2 separate regions of the Homo sapiens genome follow, and region 2 is linked to region 1. A link means that fine-mapping ties the variant in region 1 to the expression of a gene that starts in the linked region. Tissue or cell type: whole blood. Region 1 holds a variant in brackets; the other region holds the start of a gene. All regions are shown on one strand. Distances are from middle to middle.

Region 1 (5,207 bases):
GGAGGATCGCTTGAGCCCAGCAGTTCAAGACCAGCCTGGGCAACACAGGGAAACTTTGTTTCCACAAAAAAAAAAAAAAAAAAAAAAAAATTAGCTGGGCATGGTGGCATGTGCCTGTGGTCCCAGCTGCTCGAGAGGCTGGGGTGGGAAGATCCCTTGAGCCCAGGTCAAGGCTGCAGTGAGCAATGTTCCTGCCATTGCAATCCAGCCTGTGTGACAGAGTGACACTCTCACTAAAAAAAAACCCAAAAAACGAAATGGAAGTACCTAGTTGGCTACTTGCATCTAGAAATCAGGAGAGAGACCTGGGCTAGAAAAAAACAAGATTTGGGAGTTGTCAGCCTACAGGCAGCAGAGGAAGCCATGGAAATGAACAAAATCATGCTGAGGAGAGTGCAGACTGAAAAACCCCAACATTTAAGGTCAGGTGGAGGAGAGGCACCTGGGATGAAACTCAGAAGAGGCCATACAAAAGTGGGTCATGAAAATTAAATCAGGAAGAAGGGAGTGGCCAACAGTGAACAATGCTGTCAAGTCAGAGAACAAGAGGTCAAGTATGAACAAGTGAACAAGAATGCTGTTCAAGTAAGAGACCAAGAGAAAAGTGAATTTGAATTTAGCACACCAGGACATTGTTGACGGCCCTGGTGGAAGCAGCTATGGGAAACTGATGCGGCAGATGCAAAAAACAGCAGATCAAGTATATGAGAGGCGAAGGAGGAAAGAGGACAGTAGCTGGATGATCTTTTCTTTTTCCCTTAAGAGAGTTGCTAAGGAATAATCTTTGTTGCTGTTATTTTGTTTTGAAAAAAAAAAAAAGGAGAGATTTGAGGATGTATATACAGGCTAATGGGCAAGATAAGAGAGGTTGAAAATGGTATGGAGAGAGTGGGAGAGGATGAGGTCCAGAGCCCAGACAGCAGGGTCAATTTTGGATCTATTTAAGATAAAGATATAAGATAGGTAGGTGGTCAGAATGAAGTTCATCTGGAAGAGGCAGGAAGTTGAGAAAGTTCCTGTTTGTGGTATCATTACAGGCTCTTTGAAAACAACCAAAAATGTCAAAGACCCTTTGAGGGTTTACATAAAAGAAAATGTCCTCCCTGTCTACCCACCACAGCCCAGCTATTTCAATTCTACGTGACTTCCAAGACTCAGGGCAAACTTATCTTCTGGGAAGATTCCTCTGAAGGCCTTAGTCAAATGGAAATCTCTTCCTTGACTGAATATTCACAGTTCTTTGTACCATTCACACGTCTTACTCCTGCACTTGGGACAGGGGCTCTATCTTGTAGATCTCTGTACCTACTACAAGACCCTCTACTAATGAGAGAGCAACAAGTACCTGCCAAATGAAGACCTGAGCAACATGTAGTGTGCATGCTGGTGCCACGTGGGCAGCACGGACATGGAGGGCTCTAGGGAGGAATGTCAAAGGAGATTGTTCATCCACTGGGGGTGATAAGAAAGACTTCATGGAAGAATGGACACTGGAGCTATGTTTTAAGGGTTGATCTTCTGTGGATAAAAAAGATGGGAAGAAGGAATGGAAAAAGTATTCCAAGTGGAGAAATTTTTAATAGCAAAGCCACTTTAAAAGCAAGTTTAAAGAACAAATTGTTCTATTTGCCGGAGATGATTTAACAACAATAAGAAACATGGTAATGCTGCTAACATTTATTGAGTACTTACTATATCATCAGGCACTAAGCATTTTACCTACATTATCTCATTCCCCACAACCACTGTAACCAATATTACATATGCTATGTGAATTACATCTCAAAAAAGCTCTTACAGAAAAAAAATGTAAAAAGTAAATATATTTTTTTTAAAATTGCTTTTTGCTCTACAAAAGACCCTGTGAAGAAGATGAAAAGATAAGCTACAGACTGGGAGGAAATATTTGCAAAGCACATATCTGACAAAGGACTACTATCTCAAATATATAAAGAGCTCTCAAAACTCAAAAGTAAAACTATTCATTGCATCAGTGTTTGTAACTGCAGGTAGTCAAAAACAACCTAAATGACCATGGGGAAACTGATAGGTAAAATGTGCTCTAGTCACATGCTAGATTACTATACAATAGGTAAAGTAATAAACTGGACATATTTATCAACATAGATGGATCTGAAGCATAATTTGCATGATAAAAGCAAATCGTATACAAATAGCATAACACTATTTTTGTAAAATTTTTAAGCTCACAAAATAATGTCTGTTTTATATGAAAAATATGGCTGCTGAATTAGAAAGATATACATTAAATATATGGGAGCAGATGTCTATAGTCAAAGGAGAAGAGTGGGAATAAAAGCAATAAGAACCAAAATTGGCTATAACTGAAGTATACAGATAATCAAATCATATCAGTCCATTTGTACAACTGAGGTCTTACAGAACTAGCAAAACAAAAAAACAAATAAACAAAACTGTGATACAACCACACCAAATACTTAGGTAAGAGTTAAAAGGAAGTCATTACACTGAGGTATATTTTTCTGACATGGAAAGATCTCCAGGATATATTGTTAAGTGAAAAAAATCAAGTCAAAGAACTATATATACAATGTTGTAACATTTATGTAAAACAAAACTACAAAATAAAACTCTTATATTTCTCTCCATCCCCCAATCACACACATGTTCAAATGTACAGAGAAGGTTTGGAAAAGATAACTATGAAAACATAGTACATAGTGATATAAGAAAATGTCCTGAATTATTCATTAAAAGTATAGAATTAAAAATAAAGGAAACAGAAACTCCAGGAAAAAACAAAAAGCAGTAAGAAAGGAAATGTAATCCTACATTTCCTTGTTTTGCAATAATATTTACAGTCATCACCAACAACACAAAAGGAAACAAAAACTCAACAGTTAAGAAAAATAGAAAATAGGCAAAAGACACAAAGAGATATTTTACTGAAGAGGATATATGGATGACAGATAAGCA[C/T]ATGAAAAGATGTGCTTGGTATCCATTAAGGAAATGCAACTTAAAACCACAATGAGATGGCACTACACATCTATTATAAACATTAAAATAAAAAATATTGACAGTGTTGAACGTTGCCAAGAGTATGCAAAAACTGAATCTCTCATACACCCTTGGCAGGAATGTAAAATGGTACAGCCTCTCTGGAAAAGTTTGGCAGTATCTAATAAAACTAAACATATGTTTACCATACAACCCAGCAATTGTACTCCTGGGCGTTTATCCCAGATAAATGAAAATTAACATCCACACAAAGAGTTATACCCAAATGTCATCTTTATTTGTAATAGCCCAAAACTGATGACAACCAAAATGTCCTATACTAGTTGAATGGTTAAAAAACTGCTGTACAGGCCAGGCACAGTAGCTCACGCTTGTAATCCCAGCACTTTGGGAGGCCGAGGCTGGTGGATCATTAGGTCAGGAGTTCAAGACCAGCCTGGCCAAGATGGTGAAATGTTGTCTCTACTAAAAATACAAAAAATTGGCCGGGCACAGTGGTAGGAAGCTGTAATCCCAGCTACTCAGGAGGCTGAGGCAGGAGAATCACTTGAACCCAGGCAGCAGAGGTTGCAGTGAGCTGAGATGGTGCCGCTGCACTCCAGCCTGGGTGATAGAGTGAGACTCCGTCTCAAAAAACAAAACAAAACAAAACAAAAAAACTGCTGTACATTCATACCACAGAATACTGATCAGGTACCAGAAAGAATGAACTACTGCTACATGCAACAACTTGTATGCGACTCAAGGACATTATCTTGAGTGAAAAAAAAAAAAGCCAATCTCAAAAGGTCACATACTGTATGATTCCATTTATGTAAAATTGTCAAAATGACAAAATTATGGAGATGGTTACCCAGGGTTAGGATGATGAGAGGGAAGAAAGTAGGTGTGACCAGAAGAGTAGCTTGGAGATATTTCTAGTGATGCAATAGTTCTTTATCTTGATTGCAAATCTACATATATGTAAATCTTGATTAAATCTATACAAGTGATAAAATGGCCTAGAACTATACATACATTGTGCAAATTTCTATTTTCTAGTTTGATACTGTACTGTACTCATGTAAAATATAATCATTGGGGAAAATGGGTGAAGGATACATAGGACTTCTTTGTACTATTTTTTTTTTTTTTGCAACTTCCTGTGAATCTATACTTATTTTGAAATAAAACGTTTTTTAAAAGTACAACAGAGCAAAAAACAGAGCTCTTAAAAATTAAAAACATGGGCTGGGCACAGTGGCTCACACCTGTAATCCCATCACTTTGGAAGGCCAAGGCAGCAGGTGGATGGCTTGAAGTCAGGAGTTCAAGACCAGCCTGACCAACATGGTAAAACCCCGTCTCTACTAAAAATACAAAAAAATTAGCTGGGCGTGGTGGCAGGTGCCTGTAATCCCAGCTACTTGGGAAGCTGAGGCAGGAGAATCGCTTGAACCTGGGAGGCGGAGGTTGTAGTGAGCCGAAATCGCACCACTGCACTCCAGCCTGGGCAACAGAGTGAGAGTTTATCTCAAAACAAACAAACAAACAAATTAAAAACATGATGGCAGAAATTAAAAACTAAAATGAAGGATTGGAAGATAAAAATTAAATCTCCCAAAGGGAGCAGAAAGACAAAGATGAGGGAAACAGGAGATGAAAGTTACGAAAATCAGAGAACCAGTCATATAGGTTATCTATATGAATACAGAACATCAGAATAATGAATTCAAGAAAAAGAGGATGGAGAAAATAGGAGAGAGAAAGTTAAGAAAATTTTCAGACTAAAAAGACATAAATTTCTGGTGCCTATCAAAATGAGTGAAAATATAAATATCTTTGTAAAGTCACACTGGGGACAAAAAAAAAAGGTTCCACAAGCTTCCTGAGAGGAAAATTCAGTCACAAAGCAAGAGAATGGCTTTGGACTTCACAACAACACAAGACACTAGACCACTAAGCAATGTTTTGCAAGATGCTGATGATGGCCAGGTGTGGTGGCTCACACCTGTAATCCTAGCACTTTGGGAGCCCAAGGCAGGATTGCTTGAGCCCAGGAGTTCAAGACCCTCTTGGGCAACATAGGGAGACCCCATCTCTATAAAAAATACAAAAAAATGAGCTGGGCACGATGACACACACCTGTGGTCCCAGCTACTCAGGAAGTGGGAGAATCATTTGAGCCCAGGAGGTCAAGGATATAGTGAGCCATGTTTGTACCACTG
Region 2 (5,119 bases), 57 kb after region 1:
GTCATATTATGGGTCTCAAACTGGGGTTAGAAAAATATGGTTCTTGAATCTGTGGTACCATCTCTGCTGATCCCATACCACTGTTGTGAATCAGCGAGATAATAAATGCAGAGCTTTCTACATGAATTTTTGCACAGATCTGAGGTCTTATCATGAGGCGGAACTGTGTTAGACTTGGAATGTGACAAGAATGTGTGATAAGCCACTGGCTGAGGGAGTACTACTGCATGAGATATCCTGCACAGTCCAGGATAGCATCTGTCCAGAGGAACTGAAAGGGTGCAACTTCGAGCAAGCCAGAGCCGACTTTGAATTTATGTGTGGCTGTGTGTTTTCTCAGGGCTCCAAGTGTTTTATACCTTGGGTCAAATTCTCCCCCTGCGGAGGAAGCTCCTTTCTGGAAGTAAATCAGGCACATTTAGAAGATTCGTTAACTCTTTGGCTCCTGGGGGATTATGGCCAGCATTTTCTCTCTTAGACTTCCCACAGCGAATTCCTGGTTGGGCCAAGCTGATATCTTTGAGCTGACTTCTGTACTCAGGGTTCTTCCAAACAGGAATATGCTTTCTCTGCCTAAGATCTGGGTTCCATGCCCATCTCAACCTCAATCCCTCCTTCAAGGAAGTTTTTCCTAACTCCTCGGCCAGACATCAATAATGTCTGAAGGGAGGATTTCTCCCGAGTGCCAGACTTGGAATTCCTGTTGTCTTCAGGAGCTCTCCCTGGCGCTCCCTCCTTCCCCCAGGGCCTTTAAACTGTTTCTCCTCCAGTCTGCCCACTTGATCCATGTGGGTAGACATGTTCCATGGCCTTCAGAATAAGATCTTTTGTGGGGTACTCAGTCCATAAACAGAAAATTGCCTTCATCTTGGATGCTGGTGTTTCTGGCCTGGTGAGAATGAAAGTGTGGAATTTGTTTGTAGGACTCAAAGTTTCCATTAACAATAAATATGAAAAATATATAATGCAAAGGCTTTTGTTATTGTTATTATTAAAATAGGAAAGCCTTTACCTTTTTGGAAGAACCGATTTAGATTTTGCAGAGTAATTCAGTCTTTAAAAGGTAGTGGTAGTTAAAATAGGTAATCTTTGACTTGTAAAGAGACTAATTTAAATTTTGTTAAGTAACCAATTAAGGCCATAAAGAGTTTAAATCCATCTGTGGCTTCTCATTTTCTCTAGAACAAATTCCTAATTCCCTACGATGAAATTCTCTTGCTATCCTAATTTTTTGCCGGCTCAAAGGACTAACCGTTTTCCCCAAACACGCGGCCCTGAGCCTCCGGTGCTTTGCGAAAGCCGTCCCCTCCGGCTGGAATGTTCTTTGTCTCTCTGGTAAATGTCTATTCATCATTCAAGACCACCCTTCGCCCCTCCCCTTAATTACTTCCTCCCCTGTGCGCCCTCAAATTCTTGTACTCATTCAAGCAGTATTTATTAGGGGCCAGCTTTGTGGCCGGCACCGTGGCGGGCTCTGGGGCTACAAAAGGTGAATAATACTTGGGCTCTGCCTCTGAGGGCCTTACACGTTAGGGAGGAGTGGGTCAACTGCCACAAACGTCGCTAGGAAATTAAAAGGAAAATTTTACAAAGTGGCAGTTCTTGTCTGTCTTCCCCTCCAGATGGCCCGTGTGTTGTTTTCGGGCCGGGGCTATTTCTCATTTATTTCGCACCCCCGGTTCTTAGTGCCCTGTAGGTGCTAAATCAGCATTTGTTTCATGAGTGCTTTTTCTGGGGGCAACCAGACCCCTGCAGAAGTGTACCTGTGTTGTGCCAGAGGTTCTGATGATAGGCTTATAGGCGGTAGTTTCCTCAGTGTCCGTGGGTCGCCCCCGGTCCCGGGTTGGATGCCCCGCGGTCCAGCACCGAACCTTTCGGGGTGCAGAGTTGCAGAGCCGCGGAGGGCCCGGGCCGTGCGCAGCCGAAGGGAGGCCTGCAGCGCCCCCTCTGGATGCAGCGGGCACCGGCCGGCCGCCCCGCTCACCCGCTCGCACCCCACGTTTGTTCACCAGTATTTCAGTTTACGGTCAGAAAATGAACACAGACACTTCGTGATACTCTACACTTTTCAAAGGCGTAAGGGATGCCTTTTAAAGGATTATGGATTAGAAAAATTCCTCCCTCTTTCTTGTGCCTCTGGGCCCTTGCATTGTGATTCTATCTTACGTAAATAAAGGGGGCTTTGCTCTCCTAATTGTGCCCACTGTTCTGTGCAGCGCGGACCGGCGCATGCAGCGAGCGGGGCTGCGAGGGCGCTGCTGTGGCCAGGCGTCTGGCATGCTGACCACGTCGCGCTGCTGTAAAGGAAACCTGCCCCGCGCAGCGGCGGTGGCTGGAGCGGGAGAAACCGGACTTTGTGCAACTTTGGCCATAGTGGCCATCCCATGAATCTGTTTACTAGCTTGGTGGTGGGTCCAACAGAGCTTGTTGCTCCCTAGCCGCTTGCTCGTGCCCTTGGTGGTTACCGGTAGTTAAGCTTAGGGCGCATAGGGCCCTCGTGGCTCGCCACCTCTCACGGTTCAGTACCCACGCTTCGAACGAGGGATGGGAGCAGGCGCCACGGCCGGCACCCCAGAGCCCTGCTGCCCCTTAGTTCGAGCGGCCATCCTCCTGTGGGGCTTGTGGGCAGCCTGTGGGGTTTGTGGGCGGCCTGTGGGGTTTGTGGGTGGTCTAAGGAAAGAGTTGGGGCACTCAGGGGTCTGCTGTTTTTGCCCGTGGCCTTAACTCATCAGGGGAGGGTTTCTGCAGCAGAATCTCGGGCTCAGGGTTGGCGGTTAACGAGGGAGCAGCGGGGTCTTGGGGAGGGGGCTCGACACCCCTGAAGGTGCCCCCTAAAGGAGCCACTGTTAGAGGGGCACCCCATCTTTGTGGCCATGGCGGTGGTAGAGCGGCTGGGAGGGGCTCTGCGGCGAGCAAGGGAGCAGGCGGTAGGGGTTCTGCGGCGATGGGCGGGCTAGGGGCGGGGCGCGGGTGGGCTCTAAAAGTCGGTGCCCACTCGCTCCGCGCTGCCGCGGCAACCAGCACACCCCGGCACCTCCTCTGCGGCAGCTGCGCCTCGCAAGCGCAGTGCCGCAGCGCACGCCGGAGTGGCTGTAGCTGCCCGGCGCGGCGCCGCCCTGCGCGGGCTGTGGGCTGCGGGCTGCGCCCCCGCTGCTGGCCAGCTCTGCACGGCTGCGGGCTCTGCGGCGCCCGGTGCTCTGCAACGCTGCGGCGGGCGGCATGGGATAACGCGGCCATGGTGCGCCGAGATCGCCTCCGCAGGTGAGTGTGCGGTGGGAACGAGGGGGTGTGGCTGGCGGCCCTGGGACTAGGGCGCAGGCGAGCGGAGGACTGTGTGCCCGTGTCCGAGCTGGGGCTGCCTCTGGGCGAAAACTCTACCGACAGGCGGCACGCATTCCGCGCCCGCTCTGCCTACTTGAGGAGGGGGTGTCACTCCTGCCCGCAATGGAATGTTCAGAACGCGGGACCTCCTTGGGTTAGGATTTCTAGACCCCGGGATCGTCGTGGTGAGATTTAGGATTTCTGGACCCCAGCGTCATCTTGATATGACTTAGGATCCATAATGACCCTGGTCTCACCCTGATGCGAATTGGGATTTTTAGATCCTGGCATCACCCTGGTGCGATTTAGGATTTTTATACTCAGTCATTGCTGCAGCATGATTTAGGATTTCTAACCCCCAGCATCGCCCTGGTTTGATTTAGGATATTTAGACTCCGGCTTCCCTCTGGTGCGATTCAGGATTCTTAGACTCCGCCGTTGCCGTGGCGCGATTTAGGATTTATAGATCCCGGCAAAGCCCTGGTGCGATGTAGGATTTTTAGAACCCCAGCATCGCTCTGGTGCGACTTAAAGGATAGGCCCCAGCATCGCCCTGGTGCGATGTAGGATTTTTAGAACCCCGGTGTCTCCGTGGCGCACCTTAGGATTTCAAGAACGGGATAATCGCAGTGCCGAGATCGCCGCGGTGCAGCTTAGGATTTCAAGACCCAGGTATCACGGTGGCGGGAGTCACCGCAGTGACTAGAACTCGCAGTGCCCGTCAGCCGCCTTAAGTATTTTTCAGATTTCAGTAACAAGCGCGAGTGAGAACGGCGATGTGACCAAACTGTCATGTTGCGCAGGGATTGTTCACCTTGGTTTCGCGGGTTTTCAAAGTGGTTCGTCTCGCGGCGACGCCATCAGGTGGGCGGCAGGTTGGGTGGTATTATTACGGGAGTGTGTTTTTCTGTTTACAAGATGAAGAAATCAAGGCTCAGAAATTTTTGGAAAGTTTGTTACTGGAGTTTGCTTATTGTCTCCGCTCATGGCTCATCAAATAGTTGGGATTTTGGCCAAAAAATGTTTGCTTAACCCATTTTGCCTACTGACGGCTAGGTTGCTTCACTTCTAAAAATCCTAAAAGTTCATGGGGGCATTTTTACTGAGGTAATAAGACAAAAAATGGCCCCCTGAGAGGTTGCCTCTTTGCTTTCTTGGAGTAAGAGGAGGAGGGTGTGGAGGGGGGTGTCCAGGAGTGGAGTATGTTGGTCGATAGCCTCGTTTTTTAACCCCCCACTTTCCCTGAGCAGCGGCGGGGAAGCCTCCCCATTTGCCGCTCTGGCCGCCCCTCCCGGGGCTCTCTGCTGAGTCACTGCAGAGATTCAGCTGCTGGAACCCCGGGGATGAATGCGATGAGAAGCACTGGGGGAAAGGAGTAATGAAATCTGCACATGAAAATGTATACATTGAAGTACAGGACAGATAGGGCTGGGCAAATGATCGTCAAAACCTAATGGTTTTTGTCATCTGACCTTTCAAGGAGATACTGGGATACAGCCTGCTATTGTTGGGTGAAAACTGTGATATAACCATCATGTTCTGGCACTTTTTTGAACCATTTCTAGTATTACCTTGAGAAGTAGGACCAAATGGTTCTATCCGTCTTATGGACAGGTACTTTGGAGAAAAAAAGAAATGACTGCCCTAATAATGCCTAAAAAATAGCCTGGGGAGCTGACATTGTTTAAGAAACATGGTTATTTTACCACTGTAAAACCACAGGCTTGTTTTTAGATTTTAGCAAAAAGTATCAGGGATATGGGGGGGAAAAGTATCTTGTAAGTTGAGGAAGTTAGCG

What was found. PIP is the estimated chance that this variant, and not a neighbour inherited with it, causes the effect.
Region 2: MEST starts here. The variant in region 1 is fine-mapped to the expression of MEST in whole blood (INTERVAL, PIP above 0.99).

The regions. Positions count from the first base shown.
Region 1 is chr7:130,432,524-130,437,730 of GRCh38, forward strand. All of the region lies in intron 1 of CEP41 (centrosomal protein 41), which reads right to left. Among named protein-coding and RNA genes, the nearest start is that of CEP41, 5.9 kb to the right of the region's middle. The variant C/T (reference allele first, on the strand shown) is at 2,959.
Region 2 is chr7:130,489,079-130,494,197 of GRCh38, forward strand. MEST (mesoderm specific transcript) reads left to right here and starts at 3,007. Exons shown (of 12, transcript NM_002402.4): 1 at 3,007-3,261. The coding sequence starts at 3,236. MESTIT1 (MEST intronic transcript 1, antisense RNA) reads right to left here and starts at 1,899. Exons shown (of 2, transcript NR_004382.2): 1 at 1,764-1,899; 2 at 1-889. RefSeq lists a silencer at 1,835-2,044.